Linked DNA regions of Homo sapiens. The protein of the gene in region 4 interacts with the protein of the main gene of each other region in a pairwise test. Each region holds a gene or a part of one and is shown on either strand. Other genes may lie near its edges. The genes, in order: FXR2, SULT2A1, PTPA, NIF3L1, NME7, LMO3 and BEND7.

Evidence for each region.
Region 1: the proteins of NIF3L1 (region 4) and FXR2 interact in binary tests that used the Homo sapiens proteins (3 or more experiments, as listed by UniProt).
Region 2: the proteins of NIF3L1 (region 4) and SULT2A1 interact in binary tests that used the Homo sapiens proteins (3 or more experiments, as listed by UniProt).
Region 3: the proteins of NIF3L1 (region 4) and PTPA interact in binary tests that used the Homo sapiens proteins (3 or more experiments, as listed by UniProt).
Region 5: the proteins of NIF3L1 (region 4) and NME7 interact in binary tests that used the Homo sapiens proteins (3 or more experiments, as listed by UniProt).
Region 6: the proteins of NIF3L1 (region 4) and LMO3 interact in binary tests that used the Homo sapiens proteins (3 or more experiments, as listed by UniProt).
Region 7: the proteins of NIF3L1 (region 4) and BEND7 interact in binary tests that used the Homo sapiens proteins (3 or more experiments, as listed by UniProt).

Annotation. Positions count from the first base shown.
Region 1 is NC_000017.11:7,600,676-7,605,140, reverse strand, and holds part of FXR2 (RNA-binding protein FXR2), read left to right. Parts: intron 1-1,060; coding exon 1,061-1,132; intron 1,133-1,235; coding exon 1,236-1,384; intron 1,385-2,138; coding exon 2,139-2,232; intron 2,233-3,615; coding exon 3,616-3,732; intron 3,733-4,465. UniProt on the Homo sapiens protein: mRNA-binding protein that acts as a regulator of mRNAs translation and/or stability, and which is required for adult hippocampal neurogenesis. Specifically binds to AU-rich elements (AREs) in the 3'-UTR of target mRNAs.
Region 2 is NC_000019.10:47,869,385-47,873,524, reverse strand, and holds the end of SULT2A1 (sulfotransferase 2A1), read left to right. Parts: intron 1-1,957; coding exon 1,958-2,070; 3' UTR 2,071-3,058; downstream 3,059-4,140. UniProt on the Homo sapiens protein: Sulfotransferase that utilizes 3'-phospho-5'-adenylyl sulfate (PAPS) as sulfonate donor to catalyze the sulfonation of steroids and bile acids in the liver and adrenal glands.
Region 3 is NC_000009.12:129,134,881-129,139,345, forward strand, and holds part of PTPA (serine/threonine-protein phosphatase 2A activator), read left to right. Parts: coding exon 1-14; intron 15-1,590; coding exon 1,591-1,715; intron 1,716-2,711; coding exon 2,712-2,812; intron 2,813-4,465. UniProt on the Homo sapiens protein: PPIases accelerate the folding of proteins. It catalyzes the cis-trans isomerization of proline imidic peptide bonds in oligopeptides. Acts as a regulatory subunit for serine/threonine-protein phosphatase 2A (PP2A).
Region 4 is NC_000002.12:200,895,609-200,900,073, forward strand, and holds part of NIF3L1 (NIF3-like protein 1), read left to right. Parts: intron 1-1,467; coding exon 1,468-1,606; intron 1,607-3,776; coding exon 3,777-3,860; intron 3,861-4,465. UniProt on the Homo sapiens protein: May function as a transcriptional corepressor through its interaction with COPS2, negatively regulating the expression of genes involved in neuronal differentiation.
Region 5 is NC_000001.11:169,297,623-169,302,087, reverse strand, and holds part of NME7 (nucleoside diphosphate kinase homolog 7), read left to right. Parts: intron 1-3,324; coding exon 3,325-3,532; intron 3,533-4,465. UniProt on the Homo sapiens protein: Possesses an intrinsic kinase activity. Displays 3'-5' exonuclease activity with a preference for single-stranded DNA. Does not seem to have nucleoside diphosphate kinase activity.
Region 6 is NC_000012.12:16,554,163-16,558,627, reverse strand, and holds part of LMO3 (LIM domain only protein 3), read left to right. Parts: intron 1-4,465.
Region 7 is NC_000010.11:13,494,093-13,498,557, reverse strand, and holds part of BEND7 (BEN domain-containing protein 7), read left to right. Parts: intron 1-1,669; coding exon 1,670-1,792; intron 1,793-4,465.

The DNA.
Region 1 (4,465 bases), on a different chromosome or scaffold from region 4:
CGCCTCAGCTTCCCAAAGTGCTGGGATTACAGGCATGAGCCACCATGCCCTGCCGTCCTCTGATTTTAATTAGTTCCTTCCTCTGGTTTCTTGTATCCTTGGTTTAAGATACATCCCAGGCTGGATGCAGTGGCTCACACCTGAAATCCCAGCACTTTGAGAGGTCGAGTGGGGCAGATCACCTGAGGTCAGGAGTTCAAGACCAGCCTGGCCAACATGATGAAACCCCATCTCTACTAAAAATACAAAAAATTAGCTGGGCGTGGTGGCGGGCGCCTATAATCCCAGCTACTTGGGAGGCTGAGGCAGGAGAATCGCTTGAACCCAGGAAGTGGAGGTTGCAGTGAGCTGAGATTGTGCCATTGCACTCCAGCCTGAGCACCAAGAGCGAAACTCTGTCTCAAAAAAAAAAAAAAAAAGATGCATCCCAAATACCTTTTTTTTCTTTTTGAGATGAAGTCTCACTCTGTTGCCCAAGCTGGAGTGCAGTGGCGCGGTCTCAGCTCACTGCAACCTCCACCTCCTGGTTCAAGTGATTCTCCTGCCTCAGCCTCCTGTGTAGCTTGGAGTACAGGCATGTGGCACCACACCCGGCTAATTTTTGTATTTTTAGTAGAGGTGGGGTTTTACCATGTTGGCCAGGCTGGTCTTGAACTCCTGACTTCAGGTGATCAGCCCACCTCAGCCAAAGTCCTGGGATTATGGGCATAAGCCACCGCGCTTGGCCTCTTTTTTTTTCGTGGAAGTGGGGTCTCACTGTGTTGCCCAGATCGTTCTTGAACTCCTGAGCTCAAGAGATCCTCCCACCTTGGCCTTCCAAAGTGCTGGGATTATAAGCTTGAGCCACTGTGCCCAGCAGCCCCAAATATCTTAATGGTTGTTCTATTGTTTATGTTGCCCAAGCTGGTCTTGAACTCCTGGGCATAAGCAGTCCTTTTGCCTCAGCCTCCCAAAGCGCTGAGATTACAGGTGTGAGCCCCACCATGCCCGGCCTCCTCATCCCTTTCTTGATGCTTTTGGGTGGTCTTCAATATCTCTTTGATTCTCTACTTTTCTTTAGGTTTATTCTCGAGCCAATGAACAGGAACCTTGTGGCTGGTGGCTGGCCCGGGTGCGGATGATGAAGGGAGATGTGAGTGACTGGGAATGCCTTTGGAGAACTACTGAAACAAATATGTTATTCATAGAAAGTTGCTCAGGTCATCCACAACTTCTCCTTTTTTACCATGTGCCAGTTCTATGTCATTGAATATGCTGCCTGTGATGCCACCTACAATGAAATTGTTACCCTGGAGCGACTTCGGCCAGTTAATCCCAATCCCCTTGCAACCAAAGGCAGCTTCTTCAAGGTTACCATGGCTGTGCCCGAGGATCTGAGAGAAGCGTGAGTGTTAAGGATGGTGGGAATGAGGGCCCTCTTTACAGCCCTAATCTCTGGCTTTATTTCTCCCAGGCATCACTCCCACTTTGCAGTTTTCTCTGTTGTTCCCCTGGCCCTCTACTAGAGCCCTTCTTGCTAAGAAGACACTTAGTTTCTTTATTTTCCCATCCTTGTTCTTTAACTGTGGTCCCTCTTCTTTTCTTTTCCTTTCTTTCTTTTTTTTTTTTTTTTGGAGACAGAGTTTTGCTCTTGTTGCCCAGGCTGGAGTGCAGTGGCACAATCTCGGCTCACCGCAACCTCCACCTCCTAGGTTCAGGCGATTCTCCTGCCTCAGCCTCCCGAGTAGCTGGGATTACAGGCATGCACCACCACACCCGGCTAATTTTGTATTTTTAGTAGAGACAGGGTTTCTCCATGTTGGTCAGGCTGGTCTCAAACTCCTGACCTCAAGTGATCCGCCTGCCTCAGCCTCCCAAAGTGCTGGGATTACAGGCGTGAGCCACCGCACCCGGCCCAGTCCCTTTTCTTTTCTTATTTACTCAGCCCTGCTTCTCTGAATTTTTTTTTTTTTTTTTAATAGAGACAGGGTCTCACTATGTTGCCCATGCTAGTCTTGAACTCCTGACTTCAAGTGATCATCCTGCCCTAGCCTCCCAAAGTGCTAGGATTACAGGTGCAAACCACCATGTCCAGCCTCCCCCGAACTCTTCACTGTACTCTCTGCATTCTGCCCGCTGAGTACTTTTTTCCTCTGCAGCTGCTCCAATGAAAACGTCCATAAAGAGTTCAAGAAAGCCCTGGGAGCCAACTGCATCTTTCTCAACATCACAAACAGTGAGCTCTTCATTCTGGTGAGTTTATTCTGCCTGAATTTCACATAAGCCTTTTGAACATTTTTTCTTTTTCCCTTTTTAACCCTTTTGCAGAAAGAGAAGGGCTTAAATGTGCTTATATTTATTTGTCAAGAGGACTTTATTGCTCCTGACTCCTACAGGCCCAGGTAGCCCTACCTTTTTTTTTTCTTTTTTTTGAGACGAAGTCTCACTCTTGTCACCCAGGCTGGAGAACAATGGCACGATCTCGGCTCACTGCAACCTCCACCTCCCGGGTTCAAGCAATTCTCCTGCCTCAGCCTCCTGAGTAGCTGGGATTACAGGTGTGCGTCACCACGCCGGCTAATTTTTTTTTTTTTGAGATGGAATCTCACTCTGTCGCCCAGGCTGGAGTGCAGTGGCGCGATCTCGGCTCACTGCAACCTCCACCTCCCAGATTGAAGCGATTCTCCTGCCTCAGCCTCCCGAGTAGCTGGGATTACAGGCGCCTGCCATTGCGCCTGGCTAATTTTTTTTTGTGTTTTTAGTAGAGACAGGGTTTCACCATGTTGGCCAGGCTGGTCCTGAACTGCTGATCTCCTGATCCACCCGCCTCGGCCTCCCAAAGTGCTGGGATTACAGACGTGAGCCACCGCGCCCGACATGCCCGGCTAATTTTTGTATTTTTAGTAGAAACAGGGTTTCACCATATTGGTCAGGCTGGTCTTGAACTCCTGACGTCGTGATCCGCCCGCCTTGGCCTCCCAAAGTGCTGGGATCACAGGCGTGAGCCACCACGCCCGGCCTCTGACCCTTTTTTTTTAAACCTGATAATCATGTTGCCATCTGGGTTAGAGACCCTCTCTTGATATTTGGACTTTCAGAAATAGAGTATGTAGCTCTCACCTTATGCTTGCTCCTTGCTTTCTCTCTAAACCATTTTCCTTCAGTACCCTGATAGTCAGCCTTTGTGGGACTGACAATGAGTCTCCTCCTTCCTAGCTTCATTTCTTTTTTTTTTGAAAACAGAGTATTGTTCTGTCACCAGGCTAGAGTGCAGTGGCGCAGTCTCGGCTCACTGCAACCTCCGACTCCCGGGTTCAAGCGATTCTCCTGCCTCAGCCTCTGGAGTAGCTGGGATTATAGGCATGTGCCACCACGCCCAGCTAATTTTTGTATTTTTAGTAAAGACAGGGTTTCACCACGTTGGCCAGGATGGTCTCGATCTCATGACCTCGTGATCCGCCTGCCTTGGCCTCCCAAAGTCCTGGGATTGCAGGCATGAGCCACCGCGCCCGGTCTCCTAGCTTCATTTCTTAACCCTTTTCCCGGGACTTAGGCATCCTGATTTCTAGTCCCTGGCTCTCCCTTAGTGTTTATTCCAAGCCAGTTTTAATGACTTTCCCACTGGTTTCCTCCCAGTCAACCACAGAAGCCCCTGTGAAGCGAGCATCTCTGCTGGGTGATATGCATTTCCGAAGCCTGCGCACCAAACTGCTACTTATGTCCCGCAATGAAGAAGCTACCAAGCACCTAGAGGTAACTTTTAGCTCCTTTTCCTTCTGCTGAAGGGTATTGTCTTCCTCCCTTCCTACCCTGTCCTCCATCCATGATCTTGTGTTTACAGAACAAAGACTAAGGCTTTTTCTGGGCAATTAAACCTGGGTCAGCTATTTTATCTCAGACTCCTCCAGATGGCAGAGCTCTATCATGGTATAGTGCAATTATTTTCAAATTTCTTTTAGCCAATTTTTTTTTTTTTTTTTTGGGAGACAGAGTCTCGCTGTGTCGCCTAGGCTGGAGTGCAATGACACGATCTCGGCTCACTGCAACCCCTGCCTCCTGTGTTTAAGCGATTCTCATGCCTCAGCCTTCTGAGTAGCTGGGATTACAGGCGTGCGCCACCACACCCGGCTAAGTTTTGTATTATTAGTAAGATGGGGTTTTGCCATGTTGCCCAAGCTGGCCTCGAACTCCTGGCCTCATGTGATCCACCCGCCTCAGCCTCCCAAAGTGCTGGGATTACAGGCGTGAGCCACCACACCTGGCTGAATGGTTTTTTTTGAGACGGAGTCTCACTTTGTCACCCAGGCTGTAGTGTAATGGTATAGTCTCAGCTGACTGCAACATCCACCTTCTGGGTTCAAGCGATTCTCCCGCCTCAGCCTCCTGAGTAGCTGGGACTACAGGCTTGTGCCACCACACCCAGCTCATTTTTGTATTTTTAGTATTGATGGGGTTTCACCATGTTGACCAGGCTGGTCTCAAACTC
Region 2 (4,140 bases), on a different chromosome or scaffold from region 4:
GCCAAGATGAATGGAAATGTCTATTGCATGGGGTGAAAGAATCCATTTTTCCAGGGCCAGGCGTGGTGGCTCATGCTTGTAATCCCAGCACTTTGGGAGGCCAAGGCGGGTGGATCACCTGAGGTCAGGAGTTCAAGACCAGCCTGGCTAACACGGAGAAAGCCCATCTCTACTAAAAATACAAAAAATTAGCCAAGTGTGGTGGTGGGCGCCTGTAATCCCAGCTACTCGGGAGGCTGAGGCAGGAGAATCACTTGAACCTGGGAGGAGGAGGCTGCAGTGAGCCGAGATCCTGCCATTTGCACTCCAGCCTGGGCAACAAGAGTGAAACTCCGGCTCAAAACAAAAATCCATTTTTCCAAAATCCTACAGTTCTAATACATCTGGGACAGTCCTCCGTGGAAGAAAAGAATTAAATCCTTCAAAAGACCCAGAGTCTTGGGCAATCGTAAAAGTAAACGTTGGCCGGGTACGGTGGCTCACGCCTGTAATCCCAGCACTTTGAGAGACCAAGGCAAGTGTATCACTTGAGCTCAGGAGTTCGAGACCAGCCTGGGCAACATGGTGAAACTCTGTTTCTACTAAAAATACAAAAATTAGCCATGTGTGGTGGCGCCCACCTGTAGTCCCAGCTACTTGGGGTGGGGCTGAGACATGAGAATCGCTTGAACCCAGGAGGCAGAGGTTGCAGTGAGCCGAGATTACAACACTGTACTCCTGCCTGGGAGACAGAGCAAGACTCCATCTCAAAAAAAAAAAAAAAGATAAATGCTGAGACTTTGTATAACTTATCTATATTAGGGATACATACCATACACATACACCACAGAAAGAAAATACACAGAACCTGTCCTACATGATATGTGTTATGAGGCGAAATACAGCAAGGATGGGGAGTGACCTCTAAATTGGGTGGTGAGAGAGAACCTCGCTGAGAAACTTGAATTGGAATAAAGACTTGAAAGAGGCAAATAGGCAAGTCATGGGCCAATCTGAGAGAGCAGCGTTCCAAGGAGAAGGAGCGTGGGACGCCAATAGTCTGAGGAGTGGGGATGCCTGCCACGTTTGAGGCAGAATCAGAAGTCCCCGTGTGAGTAGAGTGACGGAGAGGGTAGTTTTAGGGGATGAGCTCAGAGAAGCCACAGGGGCTGGATCACCTGGAGCCCTGTAAGCGCCTCCAGCACTTGTACTTGAGTGAAACCTAGAGTCCTCGGAAAATCTGAGCAGAGAAGTGGCATGATCTGGGATCATGAGGGCTGCCATGCTGAGACTAACTTATGAAAGAGAACTTATGAAAGCAGAGGCCAGGCCGGGTGTGGTGGCTCACGCCTGTAATCCCAGCACTTTGGGAGGCCAAGGCGGGCGGATCACCTGAGGTCAGAAGTTTGAGACCAGCCTGGCCAACATGGCAAAACCCCATCTCTACTAAAAATACAAAAATTAGCCAGGCGTGGTGGTAGGCACCTGTAATCCCAGCTATTCGGGAGGCTGAGGCACGAGAACTGCTTGAACTCGGGAGGCAGAGGTTGCAGTGAGCCAAGATCGCGCTACTGCACTCCAGCCTGAGGGATAGAGCAAGACTCCGTCTCTACAAAAAAAAAAAGAAAAAAAAGCAGAGACCAGTTACAAGTGTACTCTAATAATCCAGGTGAAAAATGATGTTGGCTTGAGTCAACGTGGTAGAAACAGAGGTGGTGAGACGTGACTTGATTCTGGACATATCAGATGATATACTGGCGTTATTGCTGAGGAATTGTACACAGGATGGATGGGAGAAAGGAGAAAATAGGAAATTGTTTCCAGCTAGGTGAATAACTATGTGACCAGGCAGGATAAAGGCCCACCACGAACCATCGGCCATTCTGCTATGTTAGCTACAATGTCCATGTCAGGTGCCTGGTGGAGACAGGTCAAGGAGATGTGTGGTCTGACCTGAGTTTCTGCTTCTTGTTTCCAGGTGTATCTGGGGACTGGAAAAATCACTTCACAGTGGCCCAAGCTGAAGACTTTGATAAATTGTTCCAAGAGAAGATGGCAGATCTTCCTCGAGAGCTGTTCCCATGGGAATAACGTCCAAAACACTCTGGATCTTATATGGAGAATGACATTGATTCTCCTGTCCTTGTACATGTACCTGACTGGGGTCATTGTGTAAGACTTATTATTTTATCCTGAAACCTTAAATATCAAACCTCTGCATCTCTGATCCCTTCCTTGTTAAAAGTTACCAGGGTTGGCCAGGCACGGTGGTTCATGCCTGTAATCCCAGCACTATGGGAGGCCGAGACGGGCGGATCACGAGGTCAGGAGACTGAGACCATCCTGGCTAACACGGTGAAACCCCATCTCTACTAAAAATACAAAAACCAAAAAAAATTAGCCAGGCGCATTGGCTCATGTCTGTAATCCCAGCACTTTGGGAGGTCGGGGGGGTGGGGGAGGATCACGGGGTCAGGAGATCGAGACCATCCTGGCCAACATGATGAAACCCTATCTCTACTAAAAATACAAAAATTAGCCGGGCATGGTGGTGCACGCCTATAGTCCCAGCTACTCGGGAGGCTGAGGTAGGAGAATCGTTTGAACTCAGGAGGCAGAGGTTGCAATGAGCCAAGATCGCGCCACTGCACTCCAGCCTGGGTGACAGAGCGAGACCGTCTCAAAAAGAAAGAAGTGACTAGGGTTCAGAGAACCAGGGTTCAAAGCCCAGGGATGCAAAGGTTGCAGTGAGTTGAGTCATGGGATCCCAGACTTTTTTAAATGTTTGCAATGTTTCCCGTTTACAGAATGCTACAAGAATAATGTACGTACTACCTAAAAGGATGTCTAAATGTTTGTTAATAAAAATAAGAAATAGCTACAGTGACAGATTTTAGAGCAAAAATTAGTAATAAAAATAAGAAATAAAATTACAGGAGCAATTAAGGTTCCATTTCTTTTCATCACATGTATCTCCACAATTTATTATTGCTCTGATCTTAAGGAGTGTAATTTGCAATCTAATTTTATCCTCTTACTCTGTGTTGTTAAACCATATACAATAAACGGTGTTTATGGAGGCTTCTAAAACTTTCATAAGGCCAGGTGCGGTGGCTCACACCTGTAATCCCAGCACTTTGGGAGGCCAAGGAGGGCGGATCACTTGAGGTCAGGAGTTTGAGACCAGCCTGGCCAACATAGTGAAACTCTGTCTCTACTAAAAATACAAAAATTAGCTGGGCATGATGGCACATGTCTGTAATCCCAGCTACTCGGGAGGCTGAGGCATGAGAATTGCTTGAACCTAGGAGATGGAGGTTGCAGTGAGCTGAGATCATACCATTGCACTCCAGCCTGGGCAACAGAGGGAGACTCCATCTCAAAAATAAAAAATAAAAAAACTAAAGTCTTGTTCCGCAAAAGAACCAAAGAACCTATAAAGAGAATGAAAAGATAGGCCAGGTGCGGTGGCTCATGCCTGTAATCCCAGCACTTTCGGAGGCCGAGGCAGGTGGATCACTTGAGCTCAGGAGTTCAAGACAAGTCTGGCCAACATGGTAAAACCCTGTCTCTACTAAAAATAGAAAAATTAGCCAGATGTGTTGGCGGAGGTTGCAGTGAGCCGAGATTGTGCCACTACATTCCAGCCTGGGCAACAAAGTGAGACTCCATCTCAAAACAAAATGAGAAAACAAGAAGACAAACCAGAGATGGAGAGGAAGTACTTGTAAATCTCATATCTGGCAATGGACTTGTTTCTAGAATACATAAAGAACTCCTAAAACCCAGCATTAAACAAATAATCTTTTAAAAGAAAAAAAAGAATAAAAGATTTGAACAAACATTTCACCAAAGAGGACACAGGGATGGCAAATCAGCACATGAAACGATGTTTTGCATCATTTGCCTCTAGAGAAATATAAATTAAAACCACAACAAGAAGGCCGGGTAAGGTGGCTCACGCCTATGATCCCAGCACTTTGAGAGGCCAAGGTAGGTGGATCACTTGAGCTCAGGAGTTTGAGACCAGCCTGGCCAACATGGTGAAACCCTGTCTCTACTAAAAATACAAAAATTAGCCAGGCGTGGTGGCGGGTGCCTGTAGTCCCAGCTACTTGGGAGGCTGAGGCAGGAGAATGGCTTGAACCCGGGAGGCGGAGC
Region 3 (4,465 bases), on a different chromosome or scaffold from region 4:
AAGGTGTTCAATCGGTGAGAGAAAGGACAGGAGGGTTGGAGGAGGGGGCGTGAGGGGCCATCTGTTTCCTCCTCAAACTGGGAAATGGGGTGCTCTAGGGTTCTCCTGAGTAGCTCATGGTTCTCTTGTCCTGTCCTAATCAAGCTCTGGCTGTGGATGGAGTGTCCAAGCCTTTTTTCCAACAGGTTCAAATTAACCTCCAAGTAAAAGCAAGTGAAAGAATTGTCACATAGGCCGGGCGCGGTGGCTCACGCCTGTAATCCCAGGACTTTGGGAGGCCCAGGCAGGCGGATCACGAGGTCAGGTGTTCGACACCAGCCTGGCCAACATGATGAAACCCCGTCTCTACTAAAAATACAAGAATTAGCTGGGCGTGGTGGCACTCGCCTGTAATTCCAGCTACTCAGGAGGCTGAGGCAGAAGAATTGCTTGAACCCAGGAGGCGGAGGTTGCAGTGAGCTGAGATCGTGCCACTGTACTCCAGCCTGGGTGACAGAGTGAGACTCTGTCTTAAAAAAAAAAAGAATTGTCACATAATGTCTGCCAGTATTGACACAGTGTTGACCATATGGAGGAAGAATTCTAAGCACTTTATGTATAACTCATTAATTCTAACAACAACCCTATGAAATAGCAACTGTTATTTCCATTTTACATATGAGGAAACTGAGGCACAGAGATATCCGGTGTCTTCACTGGGTTCACGCCAGCTGAACCCAGGTAGTCAGACTCTGACCTGCTGCCCCACACCACCCAAGCCAGTCGCTGGGCAGCACTGATGTGGATCAGTTACCCAGAGCTCTTAAAATCCCCATTGCGGGCCCCAGTCTAGCAGTGCTGCTGCAGCAGGCCTGTGACGGAGCCCAGGAGCAGTGCTCGATGCTTCACAGGTGGTTGATATGCAGCCTCTGATAATATAGAAGGTTGGAACCAGAAGAACCTAGGAGATAACCTGCTGGGACTTGTGTTAGCTTTCAGACAGGCCAACTGAGGCTGGAGAGGCTGAGGCCCTGCCCAGGGTTTTACAAGTTGTCAGGAGTTGATGGCACCAAAACCCACCTTCCTAATCAGTGATTTTTTATTTATTTATTTGTTTATTTTTTTTGAGACAGGGTCTTGCTCTGTCGCCCAGGCTGGAGTGCAGTGGAGAGATCTCGGCTCACTGCAAGCTCTGCCTCCTGGGTTCATGCCATTCTCCTGCCTCAGCCTCCAGAGTAGCTGGGACCACAGGCGCCCACCACCACACCTGGCTGATTTTTTGGATTTTTAGTAGAGACGGGGTTTCACCGTGTTGGCCAGGATGGTCTCGATCTCCTGACCTTGTGATCCGCCTGCCTCGGCCTCCCAAAGTGCTGGGATTACAGGCGTGAGCCACCGTGCCCGGGCCCTTAATCAGTGATTTTTATGCCTTTCCTGAGCCAAAAGATGGCTGAGTGTTTGTTGGGGGAAATAAAGCTACATTATTGAAATTGAGACCAGTTAACACTCTTCAGTGGTTATTTTGGGGTCTCCTTGTGCTCCCAGTGGCCGAAAGGGTGAGACTGTCTTTTTACTTTTTGCTACCTTCCCTTTCCCTGTCCTCCTGTGCAGGTACCTTGAGGTTATGCGGAAACTCCAGAAAACATACAGGATGGAGCCAGCCGGCAGCCAGGGAGTGTGGGGTCTGGATGACTTCCAGTTTCTGCCCTTCATCTGGGGCAGTTCGCAGCTGATAGGTACTAGAGCGGGAGGTGCCTATCCCTCCACCCCCAACCAAGGCTGCGTTCTGTGGCCCTCCCCTGCCCCTCCTGCGCTCCCTCCTTCCCTTCTTCCTGCCCAGGGCAGACAGTGACAGCTTGGAAAGCAGGGCATTAGACCAGCTATTGAGGGAGGCTGTTTACTGTCGACCTTCTGCTGTGAGAGCCCGTGTGGTGGGCTGGAGGAGGCGGAGGCCAAGCGCCACCAAGATAATGGGAAGTGACATGGGCTGGAGCAAGGGCGCACGCCTGGTGCATAATGGACTGGTGTGAAATGCGCCCCAGCTCCTGGCAGCAGCTGTGGGGTTTTATGTTGAAAATGAGGGACCCTTTTGATTTGGTGACCAGTGTCATCCACTGTTATTATCGAGCTGTGTGCAAAGGGGCCCGTTAGGGAGCAGCCGCCAAGTGCTGGGTGGTGGGCCTGCTTCCTGTGGGGCTCAGAGAGGCCTGCTCTGGTGACTCCCCAACTCTTGAAGCTAGTTTTCAGGATGGGCGTAGGTGATCATCTCTATTTTGATGAAGAATGAACTGCCTACAGACTGATATTCATAAATGACCATTAGTTGTGGCCTCGGGTGCATTGCCTCCCCGAATCTTCTCAGTGACACTGCGAAGGGTCTGCCAGCATGAAGCCGGCTCTGCTGACTGGCACCTGCACCAGGCACCATACTGAGTGCTGTAGGTGTGGTAATTGTTGTCATGGCCCCTAGGAGGAGGTGCTCTTCTTGTCCCCAGTGTCCAGGTGAGGAAACTGAACCTTGGCAGGCTGAAGTCATGCGTCCAACGCCATGCAGCTAGAGCTTAGCACATTAGAATACACAAACCCAGAGTTACTTATTGCTCCTTCAAGGTGAGGTGTTGAGGGCACCACGGGCAGGACTGAGGCCCCTGGGGGGGTGTGACTGCTGGGCCGGGTTGCCCAGGTAGTCGTGGGGCCTGGTTCTGAATGCTGGGGCCCATTCCTTTTCCCAGACCACCCATACCTGGAGCCCAGACACTTTGTGGATGAGAAGGCCGTGAATGAGAACCACAAGGACTACATGTTCCTGGAGTGTATCCTGTTTATTACCGAGGTGAGGAGGAGGGGTGAGAGAGAAGCCCATGGCTGCCTCCAGGCTCAGATGAACCAAGGCTGGTGGCCTTACAGTGGATCAGAAGAGCCAGAGCTGCTGCCCAAAATGGCAGGGCCGGCCGGAGCGGGTTATTGAAAAGGAAGCACCACTGGGCCTCTTCCGAAAGAGCCGCTGCTGACTGTCAGGTCCTCCGCCCAGTTCTCCTTCAGTTTCTCCTGAACACCACAGGAGTCTTGAGATGAGGGTCTAAGACTTGGTCACTAACTGGCCTTGGTGACTGCTGCAGCAGGTCTGAAAGGGTCGGGGCGGGCGGAGGTTTGTGGGGGAGGGTCAGCATCTTTCGGTGGGGCCCCACAAGGGTCTGTAGAACCATGTGCTGTGGATGTGTAAAATGAAACCACCAGAGGAGATGGAGCGAACTTCTGGTGCAGACAGCTTTTCTGTCGAAGGGACACGTCTCTGTCAGTGCCTGAGGACGTGGGCCCGAGCAAAGTGCTGGAGTGGGAGTGCGCAGGCCTGGCCTGTGGTGGCAGTCACTGGATAGCCAGCCCCACGGCTGGGTTCTGGAACTGGAAGTTATTGTCTCACCAAGGCAGGATTCCTTGCAGTGGGCCCTGGACCACTTGTGCGAGATCTCCTAGTGTGTTTGTTAAAACGCACATTCCTGGGCCCTCCATCCCAGCTTATTGCATCAGAATCTTAGGGGACAAGAGCCAGGAACCTGCATCTAAACACACGTGCCAGGCGACTGCACAGGAAAGCTGGGGACCCTCTGCTCTCTGGACCTCTCTTGAGGGAGGTGTTAGGACTTCTCATCCTCTCTGCCATCCCCATGCCCCAGTTTCCAAAGGGCGCCCTCGCTCAGCTATCTGGAGAGGGTTTGAGAGTTCTATCCCTCCTCAGTCCCTTTCCCGACACCAGCACGGATGTCTGCTGCCTCAGTGAGGTTCCTAGCAGGCCTGTGGATGCTGGCCACGGGGGCTGCTCTCCGTCCGGGCTGTGTATTCTGAGCCCCCGACGAGGTGGAGAAAGCTGGGTTATAACCAGCAGCCTTGGCTCCAGGCTCTTCCTGGTCAACATTCGGCTCAGGCTTCTGCCAAACTCCAGAGGCCAGAGGGGAATGACACATTTTTTCCAAGTCAGCAAATGGAGCCGGGACTGACGGCTGGGCGGCCACCACTTCATTCCCGGAGATCTGCTGCCCTCAGCAGTGTGGCAGGCCCAAGGTCGGGAGGACTTGGGGGCAGCCTGGCTCACTGCCTTGAAAGCCAGTCACGCGCTGCTCTCTGTGGAGTGGAATGTGGGGGTCTGCGGAGCCCTGGGGGACCTCAGGATAAGCTGGAGGAGCAGGGTGGGAAGAAGGGTGCAGATGCCACACTGAGTTCTTGGGTGTGGCTGAAAGGCTGAGCTGTTTGGGCTCCCCCGGCGGCTGGCCAGGCCTCTGGGTCCCTGTCGGTATTCTAACTAGGAGGCATGCCAGGCCTGGCCTCCAGGATTTTGGGAATTGATTCCATGGTAAAATTTTGTCTTTAGTTGGTTGGTTGATTTTGTTGGTATAAACACCCCAAAAGCTTTTCCAAAGTTTGGGACCCAGTTCCTCCAGTAGAGGAAATCTCAAAGTAGCCACTAGGTGGCAGGAGAGGCACACTGAAC
Region 4 (4,465 bases):
AGGCCATTCACTGTTATCTAAAGTACAAAATGGCAATGAGAGCATAATATTCTCTAGGAAGTAATTGAGAAAGGGAGACATTCCAGGAACAGGAAAATATTGGTACGTCTTCAGGGTTACAGATTTGGTTACAGGTTTGCTGTCTCCTTATTTTACACGCTCTGCCTGGACCATGTCATTCACTTCTTTAACTTGATAGCCATTTGTATGATGATTTCTATCTTTACTTTTTGGCTTAGAATGCTTTCTTAAGGGAAAAAATGACAAGAACCCATATTTTCATCTACTTTCTGGATGTTTTGCACTTACAGAGCCCACAAGTATTTCAAATTCAGTATATCCAAATACTTTATCCGTTTGCCACCCCCGCTTTTTTTTTTTTCCATATTTCATATTTCAGTATCATTATCTACTTTAGTTTCCAAGTTTTCACATTCCTCCTTGACTCCAGGCCCTGCTGAGTCTGGCCTCATATCTATACAGTGTTTCTCCTCTGTATTGGCTCTGCCACCACAGTAGTTGAAACTCTCATTTTCTGCGATGAGAGTAGTCTCACCGAGCACCTAGGAGGCAGTCCAGGCTCTTTAGCATGGTGTTGGAAGCCCTTAATGATCTGCTACAGCCTGGGCCTCCAGCCTCCTCTCCTTCCACAGCATGTACTCTGCACAGTAGCCATACTGTCTTCTTTTGGATCTGCCCCCATAGTGTGTTCTCTCAAGTTTTTGGCACCTTTGTCCATGTCCTCTGTGTTTAGAATGCCTTTCTCCATCTCATCGTACCTCTGTCCTGCCACACTGCACTTGACATCACCCCTTTTTAAACTCTTTATTTCCCCCTTTTTAACTCTTTTAGGGTTTTCTCTAAGACCTAAGTCCTTCCTCCAAGTACTCCCCAAGCCTCCTAAGTCACAGCTCATTTAGTTTGTCATTCTTTGTGCTGCTGCAACTGTAGCACCTACCTTGTATTTAAACAGTTTTATTATTTTGTTTATTTGAGACAGGGTCTGGCTCTGTCCCCAGGCTAGAGTGCAGTGGTACAATCTCAGCTCACCACAACCTCTGTCTCCTGGGTAGCTCAAGCCCACCTCCCATTCAGCCTCCCAAGTAGCTGGGACTGCAGGCGCACGCCACTGCCTGGCTAATTTTTGGATTTTTTTGTGGAGATGAGGTCTCACTATGTTGCCCAGGCTGGTCTCAAACTCCCGAGCTCAAACAATCCACCCACCACAGCCTCCCAAAGTGCTAGGATTATAGGCATGAGCCATCGCGCCTGGCCTGATTATTGATTTAAACATCTGCCTTCCTAGAAAACTGTGAACTCCTAGAAGAATGATTTTGTCAGGTTTGTATCCCCACATTTAGCCTGGAGCTTGCTATAGTAATCTCACAGTGTGCATGTTGATGATTTTAGCATTTGTTGTTTTAGGACTAACAATGCACACCGTTTCTAACTTCTGTTTCTCCTCAGCCTTTGCTTCTACATACTGGAATGGGACGGTTATGCACACTGGATGAATCTGTCTCCCTGGCAACCATGATTGATCGAATAAAAAGACACCTAAAACTATCTCATATTCGCTTAGCCCTTGGGGTGGGGAGAACCTTAGGTAAATATAGCTCCTTCATCTATCCAGTATGCCTACTGTTAACATTGGACAAAGATCGAAACTCTTGGTTGTATTAATATGTGATAGAGAATGTGTTAGCAGCTCATAGGAGATAATTGGTTTACGTTATTGATTAGGGTGGGCCAGGTTCTGATGTGGAATACATCTCATTGACTTAATCAATGAGATTTATTTCTCTGTCATGCTATGTGTTCATTTCAAGTTGGTCATTGTAGGAAGTCTGACCATTGTAGACTGGTTGCTGTTGCAGAGGGAGGGAGTTTTGCAGGGTCTTAAACCATCAGTTTAAAATTCCAGGAAACATGTTAATTTCTGCTCAACTCATTTTCCAGAATTAGTCATGTTGCCCAATACAAGCAAGGGAGGCATAAAGTGCAGTCTTACCATGTGTCAGGAAGAGAGCTGGAATCATGATTGCTACAATTACAACATAAACTTTGCACTTATAAGACTGGTAATATTTTCTAGTGAGGTGCTACTGAGTGATCTGATCCATTGTAGTTTCTAAGTCTTGTAGTTTTTTCTTCTGGCCTTTCCTGGTACTTTTGAGAACAAAAAGAGTGAACAGACATTTGTTCAACACCTTCAGTGAGCCTAGCACTGTACTGATTGTCTGTCCTAAGTACGTGAGCTCCTGCTGGCAAAAGCAGTGGGGTACAGCGGTTATAGGTGTGGATTCTGAGCTTAGACAACCTGGCTTCAGATTTGTCTGTCCTGTTTGCTGCATGTCTTTGACAAGTTTATGCCCTCTGTGTCACAGTAGCCTCATCTGTAAAAACTGCATTAATAAAACCTAACTCAGAAGGTGGTAGTATAATCCATGTGACATGGCACAGTGATTGGCTCACATTAAGTATAAAGTGCTAGCTGTTGTTAGTTTTGTGGTTGGTACTATTTCTCCCATTTTATAGGTGAACAATTGTGGTTCAGAGAGATAAGTAACTTTATTAGTTCGTTCTCACGCTGCTATGAAGAAATACCTGAGACTAGGTAATTTATAAAGAAAAGAGGTTTAATTGACTCACAGTTCTGCATGGCTGGGGAGGCCACAGGAAACTTACAATCATGTTGGAAGGCACCTCTTCTCAGGGTGGCAGGAGAGAGAATGAGTGCAAGCAAGAGAAATGCCAGATGCTTATGAAACCATCAGATCTCGTGAGACTCACGCATTATCACAAGAACAGCATGGGGGAACTGCCCCCATGATCCAATTACCTCCACCTGGTCCCGCCCTTGACCCGTGGGAATTATGGGGATTATATTCAAGGTGAGATTTGGATGGGGACACAGAGCCAAACCATATCAGTAACTTATCTAAAAGTCCAGTTAGATCAAACAACCCAAGGGAGTTAGTGTCCAAAGAAAATGGATAGCAGAGGTGGGATTTGACTTCCAAAATAACTCCAAAGCCCCCTCTTTGAGATACCCTGCTGCTGAACTGGAGTGTCCACTAAAGTGTTCATTTTAGAAACCCAAGTGCTAAATACTTGGATTTTGGCTCGAAAGTTGCTGTTATTTCACTTTCCAGAGGATGCTTTTTGAGAATAAATAGTATATTTAAAAATAGTGCCAAATCCATTTGTAGCATTCCTCTTTTTATAGTCCTTTTAGTTCCTTAGCTTCCTCACCTGAGAATAGAGATAGTACTTGCTTACCTCTCACTGTTGTCTGAAGACCCAGGTGAGATTATTTTACCTAGCACTGTTGCAATACAGCCTAGAGCTGCACCATTAGTACTATTCAGTGGTTTGTGAGTTTGTGCAGCCATGTCCAAAGGAATAACGGTGCCCCCTTCAGCAGCACATATACTAAAAATTGGATGATATAGATTAGCATGGCCCCTATGCAAAGATTACACGCAAATTTGTGCATTGTTCCGTATTTTGCGCAATTTACAAAGGTTGTTGAAAAAAAAAAACACAACAAAGGAATAATAACCATGCCTTGGGTTAGCTATGCAATATCAAAGAATGACCTGTTTGCTTATATTAAAACATGTTTTTTTTAAAATGCAGTAAGAACAATTCATATACTGGTGATGAGACCAGGAGTGAAATCTGTATTATGTTTAGGATTCTTGGTACAAATTATAATAGTAAAATGAAAGGGAATTGTAAAGTATTGGTCTCTTGTTTCCTCTGTTTTGAAGAGTCTCAAGTCAAAGTCGTGGCCCTGTGTGCTGGTTCTGGGAGCAGCGTTCTGCAGGGTGTTGAGGCTGACCTTTACCTCACAGGTAGGACAGACTTTGGATCTCTCTTGGTTTATTTTTTGCAAAATCAAAAATGGCAAATTTTAGGACAGTACCTGGCACATAGATGATACCTAATTAATGTTTTCTGAACCTGAACTAAACAGAAACTACAACAGAACTGGGGACTTACTGCATTCTTTGTGGAGGGATGAAATCATTGAACAGTTTATTACATTATCTCAAAAGTTAATGGTCAGCATTTATTTTACCTACATTCTTCCTAAACTGTCCCAAACCTCTCAGATTTCACATCAGTGGGATACTTTCTACCCTGTCACCTTAGCTAGGAAATGGTTCCTTTTACTCAGCCTAAAGCCAATCATCAATTCCTATCAATTCAAGCTCCCAAATCTTTCTAGAATCTTCCCCCTTATCTCTATCCAGGCACCATCTCCTACTTGAAGTACAGCATCAACCCTCTAATGGTATCTTCCATATACTCTCCTGAAATTAACTTTTCAAAGTGCAAATTTGATGGTCTTGATTAAAAAGACTTCAGTGATTTCCTTCATCTGTCTGGTGGAGCCTGAACATTGCATCCCCTTTCCTGTACCCTTTGCTTATGCTGTTTTCTCTGGCTAGAATGC
Region 5 (4,465 bases), on a different chromosome or scaffold from region 4:
TTTTTTTTTAAAAAAAAATCAACTTCTATTTTAGATACAGGGGGTACACATGCAGATTTGTTACGTGGGAATATTGTGTGATGCTGAGGTTTGGAGTATGGATCCCATCATCCAGGTAGTGAGTATAGTACCCAATAGGTAGTTTTTCAAACCACCTGCCTTCTCTCCTCTAGTAGTCCACAGTGTCTATTACCCCCAAATTTGTGTCTATGTGTGTTTAATGTTTAGCTCCTACTTGTAAGTGCGAACATGCAGCATTTGGTTTTCTGTTTGTGGATTAATTTGTTTAGGATTATGGCCTCCAATTGTGTCCATATTATTGCCAAGGACATAATTTTATTTTTTTATGGCTGTGTAGAATTCTGTGTTATATATATATACCACATTTTCTTTATCCAATCTGCCACTGATGGGCACTTGAGTTATTTCCATGTATTTGCTATTGTGAATAGCACAGCAATGAGTGTATGAGGGCATGTGTCTTTTTGGCAGAATTTCTTTTCTTTTGGGTATATACCCAGTAATGGAATTGCTAGGTTAAATGGTAGCTCTGTTTTAAGTTCTTTGAGAAATATCCACACTGCTTTCCACAATGGCTGGAGTAATTAATATTCCCACCAACCGTGTATAAGCATTCTCTTTCCTCTATAGTCTTGCCAGCATGTTATTTTTTGACTTTTTAATAATAACCATTCTGACTGGTGTGAAATGGTATCTCATTGTGGTTTTGATTTGCATTTCTCCGATGATTAGTGATATTGAGCGTTTTTTCGTATGCTTATTGGCTGCTTGTATGTTCTTTTGAGAAGTGTGTATTTATGTCTTTTGCTCTTTTTTTAGTGGGGTTGTTTCATGCTTGTTTGATTATTTAAGGTCGTTACAGATTCTGCATATTAGTCCTTTGTTGAATGCATAGTTTGTGAATATTTTCTCTCATTCTGTGGATTGTCTTTTTACTCTGTTGCTAGTGCAGAAGCTTTCTGTGCAGAAGCTCTTTAGTCCCACTCGTCAATTTTTGTTTTCGTTGCCATTACTTTTGAGGACTTAGTCATAAATTCTTTCCCCAGGCCAATGTCCAGAATGGTGTTTCCTAGGTTTTCTTCTAGGATTCTTATAGTTTGAGGTCTTACTTTTAAATCTTTAATCCATCTTGAGTAAAGTTTTGTATATGGTTAATGTTAAGGGGCCAGTTTCTTTCTTCTGCTTATGGCTAGACAGGTATCCCAGCACCATTTATTGAATAGAGAATCCTTTCTCCATTGCTTATTTTTGTTGACTTTGTCAAAGTTCAGATGGCTGTAGATGTGTGGCTTTATTTCTGGGTTCTCTATTATGTTCCAGTGATCTATGTGTCTGTTTTTGTACCAGTACCATGATGTTTTGGTTACTGTAGCCTGTTGTACTTTTAAACTATTTTGGTAGTCTTGTATACATAAAGCAATGTTCATGGAACCTTTCTATTTTAACTAGTTTGATATATATTTTGTTCCTTGACATAGAACAGATAATATATGTTACACTTTATGTATTCTAAATATTTGACATGTAATTAAATTTAAGTGAATATTTTGCATGCTCATATTATTATTACTGTTGCCAAAGACTGTTTACACTTCTAATAAGAAAGAATGTTACATCAGCCAAACTAAATGGCCACAGTAGACATGTTATTTGATATCCTGCACTGAGTAGTGGGTTTTTAAAAAAATTTGTATGTAAGAAAATTATTATGCTATAGATTATTTCAAATCAAGTGTTATAAAATATTCCTAAGCCTTCTTAGAATAGCTATATACACTTTTCTAGAAAATTGGTGGAAATTATCTTTTGGTATAAACTTTGTATATGTTTATAGCATTAACTTACAACTCCTAGTCTAATGATTTATGTGTGATTTGCATGCAGTAAATTTTATTAAAGGAATGAATTAACTAGTTGCCTGTTAATGAGAATGATGTAACAAAAGACTAGGTGAAGTAATTAAATTTTCATGAAGCAGTATCTATGATCAGGCACATCCTTCCCTATATTGTTACATGCCATATTCATAGGCTTATTCAATTGTGTGTTTTGAGAATTTTGTATTAATAGGGCGTTAGATTGTAAGTGTCTTGAAGGGGGATCTTTTTTGTGGCACAGACGCTGATATGTTATAGGCAATTATTAAATGCTTATTGAGTGAATAAACATGGTTTGCTCCTTTGATTTGGGTTTTTTTAAATCTAGTGGTTGGTCTTGGGGGTTTTGTTTGTTTTGGCAGCAAAGGTCTGGCAGAAAATGTATGAGGAGGTATTATAGAACTCTTAGGATAGAAGACAAGAATACTTTTTTGTACATGCTGTTTTTTAGAAATATTCTTCAAAATGAATGGGAGTGTTTTAAAAAGGAAGTACTGAGGGGAGCTGACATATAACATGCAGGGTGGAAGGAAGTGTGTAAAAAATAGTCATAAGTTAGTGGGCACAAAAGAGCCTGTCACACCATGCTCCTTTCTCCAGGAGGATCTCTTCTCTCTACTTTGGATGAGAGAAAACCATGGGCTTACTCTAAAAAGTACTGTGTCCCTGCTTAATATAGTCAGAGGGAGGATGTCACTTATTTCATAGTTAAACTTGTCATTGCATCCTGTACACATATAAAAGTAGAAAATAAAATGAAGTATTGTCTTTTATACCTTGGGGGACTGTGACTCAGTGCTGGATTTTTAGTCAAGAACCGATGCGTACACTTTAATAATTTAATACAGAAATAACCCAGAGTAGTTTTTACGCTAATAAAAGGATATTTCTTGAAGCCTGCTGGGGATTTTTTTTTTTATCACCAAACCAGCTCAGTGTTTATTGATTAAGAGAGTTCTTTGTCAGTCTTTGAATTCTAATAGTTTTACACAAAAATAAATAAATTCTTACTAAAAATATGTTACAAGGCATCCATCCCTATATATTGTGAAATTGTACTTGACTGCAGTGGTAAACACATGTAAATAAAAAGGAAAATCCTCTGTACCTGTTAGAGCACTGGGAAAAGCATAGGTCAACAGTATGCATTTTAAGTCATGAAATAGTCTTAATTCAACAGAACAGTGATTTTTCTGGTAACAGTAATTTGACATTACTAGTGATTTGAAGTGAATTGAGCCACTGCAAGACACTCAATTTATGAAAAATTTCTCCTGCCCATGTAAAATTAACTATGCTTAATGGTTCTAAGATTATAATATTCATGTCTATGTTGAAATAATCCAATTTAAATATATCCTGTCGTTAAGACAAATACCTAGTTGACAGAAAAAAGAAGCAAACTAATCTTCTATCTGTTTTGTAGTGAGCTGATCCAGTTTATTACAACTGGTCCTATTATTGCCATGGAGATTTTAAGAGATGATGCTATATGTGAATGGAAAAGACTGCTGGGACCTGCAAACTCTGGAGTGGCACGCACAGATGCTTCTGAAAGCATTAGAGCCCTCTTTGGAACAGATGGCATAAGAAATGCAGCGCATGGCCCTGATTCTTTTGCTTCTGCGGCCAGAGTAAGGTGTTTTAAAAATATTTTAATGCTCTTCTAGTTCTGTTAAATGTTTTATATCAAAGGAAAGCATTTCTATCACTGGTGACTTAGGGTGGATTTATGCTGCTGCTCTAGTAGTAGAGAAAACCTTTGACATCTTGCCTACTATCAAACAGTGATTCAGTGTGTCTCCTTTGTGAACTGGTAACCTGATCATGATCAACGTAAGTTTTCTCCAATTAAAACACTTCTCATCCTGTTTCTTGTTCCCAAGACTTAAATTACTGAGGCTCCTAAATGTTTGAATTATTGAATTCATGTAAGAATACCAGTTTATGGCTAGTAGATATTAAAAAGAAGATATAATTTGAGATATTTCCTTTTGATTCAGACGTAACACTGTGCTTTCAAGCTTAACATCCTATTATTTTCCTATATATAGCTAGTGTTTATGAAAGTTTCTCTACTCCTTATTTTTAAATCCATATAAATAAAGCATTTATTGGATTTATACTGAGGTTGAATTAAAGAAGTGTAAGTTTATTTTTAGCATCGTGAGAAGTGTCTCACTTAAGGTAGTTTTTAATCTGGTTGTGTTTGCAATGAAACAATATTAGACAGTTTTATAATTGATTTCTTTCTTTTTCCTACCATTTCATCAGCAAGTCCCTTCAGCTCTTTCAAAATAAACCCTGAATCTGATCATTGTGGTCTGAATCACTATTATATTTTGCCAGAACTGCTACAATAGCCTCCAAATTCTTTTTTCCTCTTTTCTTACACTCAATTAATGAAAATTTTACCTTACCCAAGTAAAATCAGCTATGCCCAGTGATCTTTTAAAGACAAATCAGATTAACATTCACCTGCTGAAAACCCTTCAGTGAATTTCTGTCTCTTCTAGAATAAAATCTAAAGTCTTTATTGTGGCCTCCAATGCTCTATCTAGTCTGGC
Region 6 (4,465 bases), on a different chromosome or scaffold from region 4:
GAATCAAAGTAAGTTCATTCAGTCTAGGGTAACATTTAGACGAAAATAAATTGGCAAATGCACATGTTTTTGGTAGGGATAAGGATATACAAACACAAACATTCCCACATCCATACAGACACCTTTATGTGCATGTATATATGTATTTTATACATTTTAAAGGTGTCTTAGTAGTAAATTTAGAATACTTTTGTTGACTTGTCATGTTGATCAACTAATAGCAGCCAGTAACCATGCAGTTCCCATTATGGAATCATAAAGTCATTGCTTTTCTACTTATAAAAGATTACATATTCATAGTAGGAAATTTAGAAAATAGAAAATGATAAAAACAAGACATTGTCCCATGTCTCATTCTTCTAAAAGAAAACATTTTAATATTTTGATATATAGCCAGCCATACATGTTCCTATGTCTATAGGACAAATGACATTGTATAAATATTACACTCACATTTAAGCAAATTAAAGTTACAAGGGAGAATCCTAATGTTTGATATTTGGACTTTTTCACTCAATTTATATTTTGTGCCTTTTTTACCTGCCATTAAAAATTCTTTTAAGATATTTTAAGCTTTTCTGAGTTCAGCTTTATGGACAGAGCTTCACATATGTCTTCTATCATCAGATATATAAGTTGTATCTTCAAAAGTTTTTGTGCTGTAAATATTATCAGTATTATCAATATAAAAATGGACCTTATGAGACCCTGTAGAATAGTAGAAAGAATGTGACATTTATAGTGAGAAGAGATTCAGATTTCAGCACCACCATATAGTAGCTGATATATTAACTGTGTGATCTTGAGTATGTTACTTAATCTCTCTGAATTTGATTCCCACACCTACAAAATAGAAACACTAATACCTCTCTTGCAGAGTCTGAAACTTCAATAAAATAATTTATGTTAAATGTCAGGAACACAACTGGTTCTCAAAAGTTAGTTATTTTTATAATTTACCAAATAATAGTCCACTAACTTGACTTTCCCACAAGACATATATCACAATAGAGTTTCTTGCTAAATGTAGATATTCAGATTGTATAAAAACAAATGCTCATATCTCTATCTGGTTAAATTCACAGAGCATGATTACTTAAACAAGGTATATAACAGTTTGAAGGCATATGCTGTACATTGCTTAATGATCTCCAGGAAAGTTATACCAATTATTCTCCTAGCAGAAATCTACAAAACTACGCATTCCCTCACATTCATTCTAAAACACTAGGAATTACGTTTAAAAAAAAAAAAAAAAAATCCTTGCCACCTTAAGGGATGAAAGATAGTATTTCATTATAATTTCTAACTGGCATTTATTTGATCCCTGGTGGTCCTTTGGTATTCCTTCTTTTAGAGAAGTAGGCAGTTTATGTCCTTTGTCCATTTTCTTCTATTAAGTAGGGTTACCTATTTTATCCATGTTCTACATAGAAAATAAAAACATTCAAGTGCTAAACCCAGCCTAAATTCTATTATGATGCAAAGTAATTGTAGGTTGTTAATGCTATTTACAAATCATATATCTATTTTATTTCACCATTGAAATAAAAAGTTGCATTCACAATTAAGTCTGTCTCCTCAGGAGAACTCAGTCAAGTAAGACAAACACTCCTAAATTTTGACTCTAAAACTGTTCACATTCTTATTGCTGCGAAATACTATTCTAGTATCATTATTAAAGTACCTAATATATTTCTGTGTTCGCTTCATTTATTACATGCCATAATGGGACTGCATATCTTTAGTGCCGGTTATGCACAATTAGCACTTAGTTATTGTCTTGTCACTTCAGCCCCTACAAGACAAACTAATGCGGGAAGTCAGCTAATCTTCATCAGTCAAGCAAAGCAGACAAATTTTGTTACCCAGGATACAGAAGGTTTTCATATAGGAGATTCTCCTTTTACTCTGAAGTTTGCTTCAGTCTCCTCCAGGAAACCCATATCCCACTTCCAGTAGCCAAATCATTGTCGCAATATTGCACTTTTCAAGTGAAACACAAGGCAAATAGGTAATTCATAGGCATTTTCTCTTAAGCAAACTTTATTGACGTCTAAAGTTGTGGAATTACGCGTTTGTGAATTGTATTCAGCAGTCATTTCATCTTTACCTTTAAATCAAAGTATCATTAAGATCCAAAGCATTTCTGAATGTTTTAAAAAGTAGCAGTAATAATAACCTTTCAGGATTGATTGTCCCTTATATATAGATCTCCTCTGCCCCTTTTAGAGGCGTATAGCTAAAACGTGAATCCTGCATTAAAATTCGGCTAGTTTCTCTATTTTAAAAGGTACCGCAGGAGGGTTATTTAAGCTTATTTTATGATATCTTGAATCTCATTCAGAATTGGAAGATTCTATATAACAGGTTAATTTCTTAAAGGTGAATAAGCCCCTTCTCCTTAGAAAACACAATAAAACTAAATGATAGTTTTGTAAGAAAAGGAAAAATAAAAAGCTTGTGATGAAATTTTCCCAAATATGTAAAATTATGTAACAATTAATTAATTTTCTTTTTTTTAAGAATAAAGCACTGTGCTAGGCTCTGTGGAAGCTGAGGTGGATAAAATCTGGTTTATTTCTTAGAGGTGTCCGGAGCTACGGGAGAGACAGGACATCAAAGACTCACAGAAGAGTGTAATCGATGCTAAATAGAGCTATACTGAGGGAAGAGAGAGCCATCCTTCTTGAAGTGTTAGGGAAGCATCAAAGGCCTGATATGCTGGGTCTTGAAAAAAGAACTCCCTAGAACTGGTTGACTTACAGGAAGTGTGTCTGCTCGGGGTTGGGGAAGATGAGGGAGCCAGGGAGCAGTGAGGAAAGGAATTTTCAGGCAAATTGAGCAACGTGCAAAGGCATGCAGATGTGAAAGCATTTGACGTGTTTAGGAAATGAAAAGCGGCTCAGTATGTTCAGAGATTAGAGAAGCGGTTTGGTAGGCACATGGAGGAGTAGAAAGAGAGCAAGCACCTAGAGGAAATGAAATTGTAAACTTAGTCTTTGAAAAGCCATTAAATAAAAGTCAAAATGAATACAAATTTAAATTAGTCATCTAAAATACATTTGTTATTTAAAGCTGTTGGTTTCTGGAATAAATCTACCTTAACCAATTTTTATTGACCACACACCTTAAGTGGTAGTACAGTTTATGATGGTTCTGCAAAGGGTTCAAAAGAAATATAACTCGTGGTCATTTACCGCAGAACTGCTGACTATAATGGCAAACCAGTTACACATTCATGAGAAATTTTGAAACACCAAAATAAACAATACACCAATAAATAAGTGCTTTGGGAAACATCAGAATAAGCAAATTTACATGGTCAGAAGATGTTGATGGAGGCAATGGGAACTCAAGGATTGTTACAATTTAAGTAGACAGAAAAAGGGGAGAAATATTTCTTGCTAGGGAACAACTTAAGTAAAGGTGAAAAGATTATCATTACCAAATAATAATGATAGCAAATTCTGATAAAGTATTAGTCAAACACCAAACACCGTTCTGAGTGTTTTACATGTACTCATTCGTTTAATACTCAAAATATCCCATAAATAGGTAGTTATTAGCTTCATTTGACAGATGAGGAAAGTAAAGTATAGGAAATGTAAGTAACTTGCCCAAGATTACAGTTAGAAGAAAGTGGTAGACTCAAGATTTAAACCTGGCCGGGCGCGGTGGCTAATGCCGGTAATCCCAGCACTTTGGGAGGCCGAGGCGGGCGGGCGGATCACGAGGTTGGGAGATCGAGACCATCCTGGCTAACACGGTGAAACCCCGTCTCTACTAAAAAATACAAAAAAATGAGCCGGTCGAGGTGGCGGGCGCCTGTAGTCAGAGCTACTGGGGAGGCTGAGGCAGGAGAATGGCGGGAACCCGGGAGGCGGAGCGAATCTGGTCTCCCTCTCCGGAGTCAGGCCCATTTCAAGAGAGGTATTTTATTTTCTGACTAAGAGCATATAAATGTGAATAGATATAGTGGACTTAAAGTAAGGTAAACTTTGAATAATGTATAGCAAGATTTGGGGTGTGGGTAGTGTCATTTGATACACTAAGGGTTGTTAGCAGTGAGATGTATAATGACAACCGGACTGTCAGTGGGAAAGACAGTAAATTTGTTCACAGGTGTATAGTGGAGGAATGAGTACACAACCCGGACTTCTTATTGAAAACAGTATAGTATAGAAATCTCTAACTTACAGTTAACTGAAGATGTGGAATAGGAAAGTATAGACACTAGAAATATGGATTGGAGCTCCCTAGCTAAGTGTTGTAAGATAGAAATTAATCATAATTGTCAGTCACTAACATTAGGGAAAGAAGATGGCTAGGCTAACATTTTTATTTCTTAAAAGGGATGTTACCAGTGGAGGCTTCTTAGCATAGGCTTTTGATAACCTGCTTAAAACTAAGCACTATATTTTATAAGGATGATTTACTATTTACACTTGTTTCATATACTTCT
Region 7 (4,465 bases), on a different chromosome or scaffold from region 4:
AGGTATGTATGAAGTTAATAAACCCCACATCAGTAAGTTTTGGGTGAACAGTGTTCTGTTTCCCAGTATACAGTAGGGACAGTGGATTTACTTTGAAAAGTATGAAGTTAGTAAAAGTTACAAACATAAATTCCCCCATATCAGTTTGAAAATAGATATTTTATGTTTTCAATAGAAATATGGCTAGGCGTGGTGGCTCGTGCCTGTAGTCCTAACGCTTTGGGAGGCCGAGATGAGTGGATTGCTTGAGGCCAGGAGTTCGAGACCAGCCTGGCCAACATGGCGAAACCCCATCACTACTAAAAAATACAAAAATTAGCCGGGCGTGGTAGCGCATGCATGTAGTCCCAGCTACTTGGGGGGCTGAGGCATGAGAAGCGCTTGAGCCTGGGAGGCAGGGGTTGCAGTGAACCAAGATCATACCAGTGCACTCCAGCCTGTGCAGCAGAGCGAGACCCTGTCTCAAAAAAAAAAAAAAAAAAAAAAGAAAAAGAAATATATTACATATAACTGTGACTACTTTGGTATTTCATTGGGATTATTTATAATTTTAAAGTTGTAACATTACAATTTTGCTACAATTTTGAATGTAAATAATTGTACCACTACAATCACTAAGTTATCCTGAAGTATTTCATGGTTTTGCTCTGGTGAATTTTTCTATAGTATTCCTAAATAATGCATATTACAGGATTTAAGGTATATAAAGTATAATAAAACATATAATTGGAACAAAACCATGGAACTTACCTTGCTGGCCTGTGAGACAATGTGAGCGCTGGAAGTCTCTAAACTGCTCCATTTTATGGTGGTCAGGTGAACAGGTGCTGGAGGGAACCCACTGTAAGAGCAATGTCCAAATGTCCCATTTTATTCTAAGGACAATAGAAGATACTTGCTTACCTATGAGAGAAACAGAATAAGATAGGTTTACCAAGGAAAAGGCATTAAATTTAAACAGTGCAAAAGAGGCTGTGGCAAGGGAAAGATAAGACATGGGAATGGAGAAAAGAGGTAGAGAGATTTTCTTTGTGAAGCTGAAGAAAAGCCAGCCAGCCCACCAATACCCTCGAACGCATCCAATTCGAATATATCCTCCCATCCCTGCTCCTCTGTGCTTCCCCACCCCAAACGCCACACCCAGAGAGTATTCTAAAAGTTTTCATGTGTGCACAGTTCTTTGTTTTTGAAATAATGTGCTTAATATCAAAACTATTTTCAATAGAACTCATATAATTTTTAATATGAACTCTTAAACACAGCTACCAAATTTTTTTTGCAAGGCTGTCCTCAGGGCTCCTTTTTTGTGTGAACTAGCATGAGTGTGTTTCGAGTGAGTTTTTGAGGTGTTGTTATTTGAGATGAACAGCTCTGACAATAGGGAGGCCTGCTGTGCCCACTCATTGTGTGTGTGTGTGCATGCGGGCTCCCGCACCGCGCCACAGCACGCACGTTACAGTATGGAAGCCTGGATAATTAGATAAAGTCAGACCCCCAGATTTAGGTTGTGATAATTAGTGGGTACGTTTTCCTTAGGCACAGCTTCATCATAATTGCACATGCTTCAAAATCCTGCCAAGATACTTTCTTTTTTCTCTCCACCTCTTTATGATTTTTTTTTTTTTTTTTGGTTTGTTTGGAGTATGTCATTCTTTTCTTTCATGCTCAGGAGAACTTCCAGTGGTGAATTCATCAGCTGGATCAAACTGCTGTACTTGTAACTGCCAGTCAACGTTGCAGGCCATTCTACAAGAACTCAAGACCATGAGGAAATTAATGCAAATTCAAGCAGGTACAAGGATCAGGCCTCGGAATGAGTCCTTTGATTTTTAATGCATATCTGACATCTTCCGTTGGAATGTTCATTGTGCTTTTATTAAAGCCTTCTTCTCACCTTGCTGTCTTGCTGTGCCTTTTCAAGTATCTGTTTTTTCAGCTTTCTCTACAATCCATTTTTCCTTTAGCAAATCAAACATATTTTGTCTTGCTACTGATACAGCTCATATAATTATGTGTATGTACTCGATAGACTTCATTCCATGATCTCCTAGTACTTCACAAATGTCAGTTAATTAAATTTGGGAACAACTGTGTATGGAGGGGTCCTTTAGGAAGCATGGGCTTCAGTGTTCAAGCACTAAGCAGATAAGAAATGTGGAGCCCCAGGCTATGCTTTGTGGCTTTTCTCTCTCCTATTCAGGATGCGGAAGCTCAGAAATCCGCCGTGTTCTGTCGTCTTTGTTTATGTGACTCCTTTTTGTTTTCACTGCCATCAGGCAAGTTGAGGGACGGAAGAGCAGTGGATTTGTAATTTGGGATTGGATGCCAATTTCTGCTTTTGGAGCTGTGTGGCGCATCTGAGCTTCCTATTTCACGTCTGTAAATGGAGAATTCATATCTAACTCACAGGGCTGTTGTCAAAATAGAATGATGTAGTAGCTGTCAATGAACTTTATAAGGCATGGTACAAGCCTAAGCTGTTTCATTAGTGTGGTCTTAAAGTCCATGAAGCGTTCTATAGAAGTCTGGAAGTCTACGTCTTCATTATAGCAGCTGTATTTTCTGATCTTCACAATTGAGGGAAAACAGAATTGTTTTTGTCACAGGTACAAGAAATAAATCATTGTATTAAGTTTTCCCTCTTGTCAAGGGACATCACCACTTGATCTAAGCCATGTCGTGACTGGCTTTCCTGCCCTTTCATCAGGATGGTAGTCCGGAAGGTCGTCACTCAGAAGCTGTTCAGGATGCCATTTAGTGAATTCTAGTATAATTTTAATATTCAGTGATGTGGTTTTGATATAAAAAGCTTAATTAATACTTAGATATATCAGTCACCCAAGATCACATTAAAGTAATGTGAGCTACTTTCTGAAAAACAGCATCTTTTTATTTGAGATGGAGTTTCACTCTTGTTGCCCAGGCTGGAGTGCAATGGCATGATCTCGGCTCACCGAAACCTCTACCTCCCAGGTTCAAGCGATTCTCCTGCCTCAGCCTCCCTAGTAGCTGGGATTACAGGCATGTGCCACCACGCCTGGCTAATTTTTGTATTTTTAGTAGAGATGGGGTTTCTCCATGTTGGTCAGGCTGGTCTCAAACTCCCGACCTCAGGTGATCTGCCCGCCTCAGCCTCCCAAAGTGCTGGGATTACAGGCGTGAGCCACCGCGCCGGGCTAAACAGCATCTTTTTAAGCACTGAATTTGGTTTTACCCCAAGGAAGTATTTTGCTCAGGTCAGTAAGCATTGGACTCACCTTGTTCCACTACGATAATCTGTGTTCTTATTAACCTGGAGGAGGTTAACATCTCCTAAATAAGGAGCTCAGAAAGAAAGGTTACTTTATGATGTTCGGATTCTTTTCTCCGAGGAGGAATTTGTTAGCACTTAAGAAAATATGCATATGAAATTGTAATGATTTGTTTTGTCACTTAAGCTCCTTACTACTGAAATGGCAAACTACAAATTGCAACCATTTAAATCCTTGACGGAAGCCTTTTTAGAATCTATTAAGTAAATGCCACTTTGTCGCTATGTTTTCTTTTCTGAACCTTTGCAGATTAGGGAGGTAAACGATTCCAAAGCTGTAGGATGGCACAAAGGATAAACTGAATAAATTACTCTCCTTTAATTTTCTTAAACTTAAAAATTTGTGTCATGTGGGTAGATTTACTTAAGGTTTAATGCCTGAAGACTTAGATTTAAATTACATTTAGAAAGTTTCACCTTTCTTTTAAGAAGACAGGGAATAAGACCTAGAGGTAAGATCTGGATGCCAGAGACTTGGGCTGTGTCTAGATTTGCAAAAGGAGAAGAAAAACTCAGATAGTCCCCGTGTTCCTTAAACCAAAACATTTTCATTTCTAATTGAGAATCATGAGGCTTAGCAAGGCCTGGGGCCTAGACCATCGTGATCATTATTCGAGGTCCCTTTGATTCTGAGGGTGCAGACCCAGCCTTGAGGGGGAATGCAGAGAGACCAAAGAGAAGTTCCCAACTCTGGCTGCACAGCAGAATCACTGGAAGAGCTTTCAGACAATGCTGTTTCCCAGGCAGCATGCCTGGAGGTGTCAGTTCACTTCGTCTGGGGTGGGGCTGAGGCATTTCAGTTTTTTTGTTTGTTTGTTTTTGTTTTTGTTTTGAGACATAGTCTCACTCTGTCGCCAGGCTGGAGTGCAGTGGCGTAATCTCGGCTCACTGCAACCTCCGCCTCCTGGGTTCAAGTGATTCTCCTGCCTCAGCCTCTCAAGTAGCTGGGACTACAGGTGCCCACCACCATGCCCAGCTAATTTTTGTATTTTTAGTAGAGACGGGGTTTCACCATGTTGGCCAGGATGGTCTCGATCTCTTGACCTCGTGATCCGCCCACCTCGGCCTCCCAAAGTGCTGGGATTACAGGGGTGAGCCACCATGCCTGGCCCGGCATCTCAGTTTTTTTAAACTCAAGTGATTCTAATGTACAAC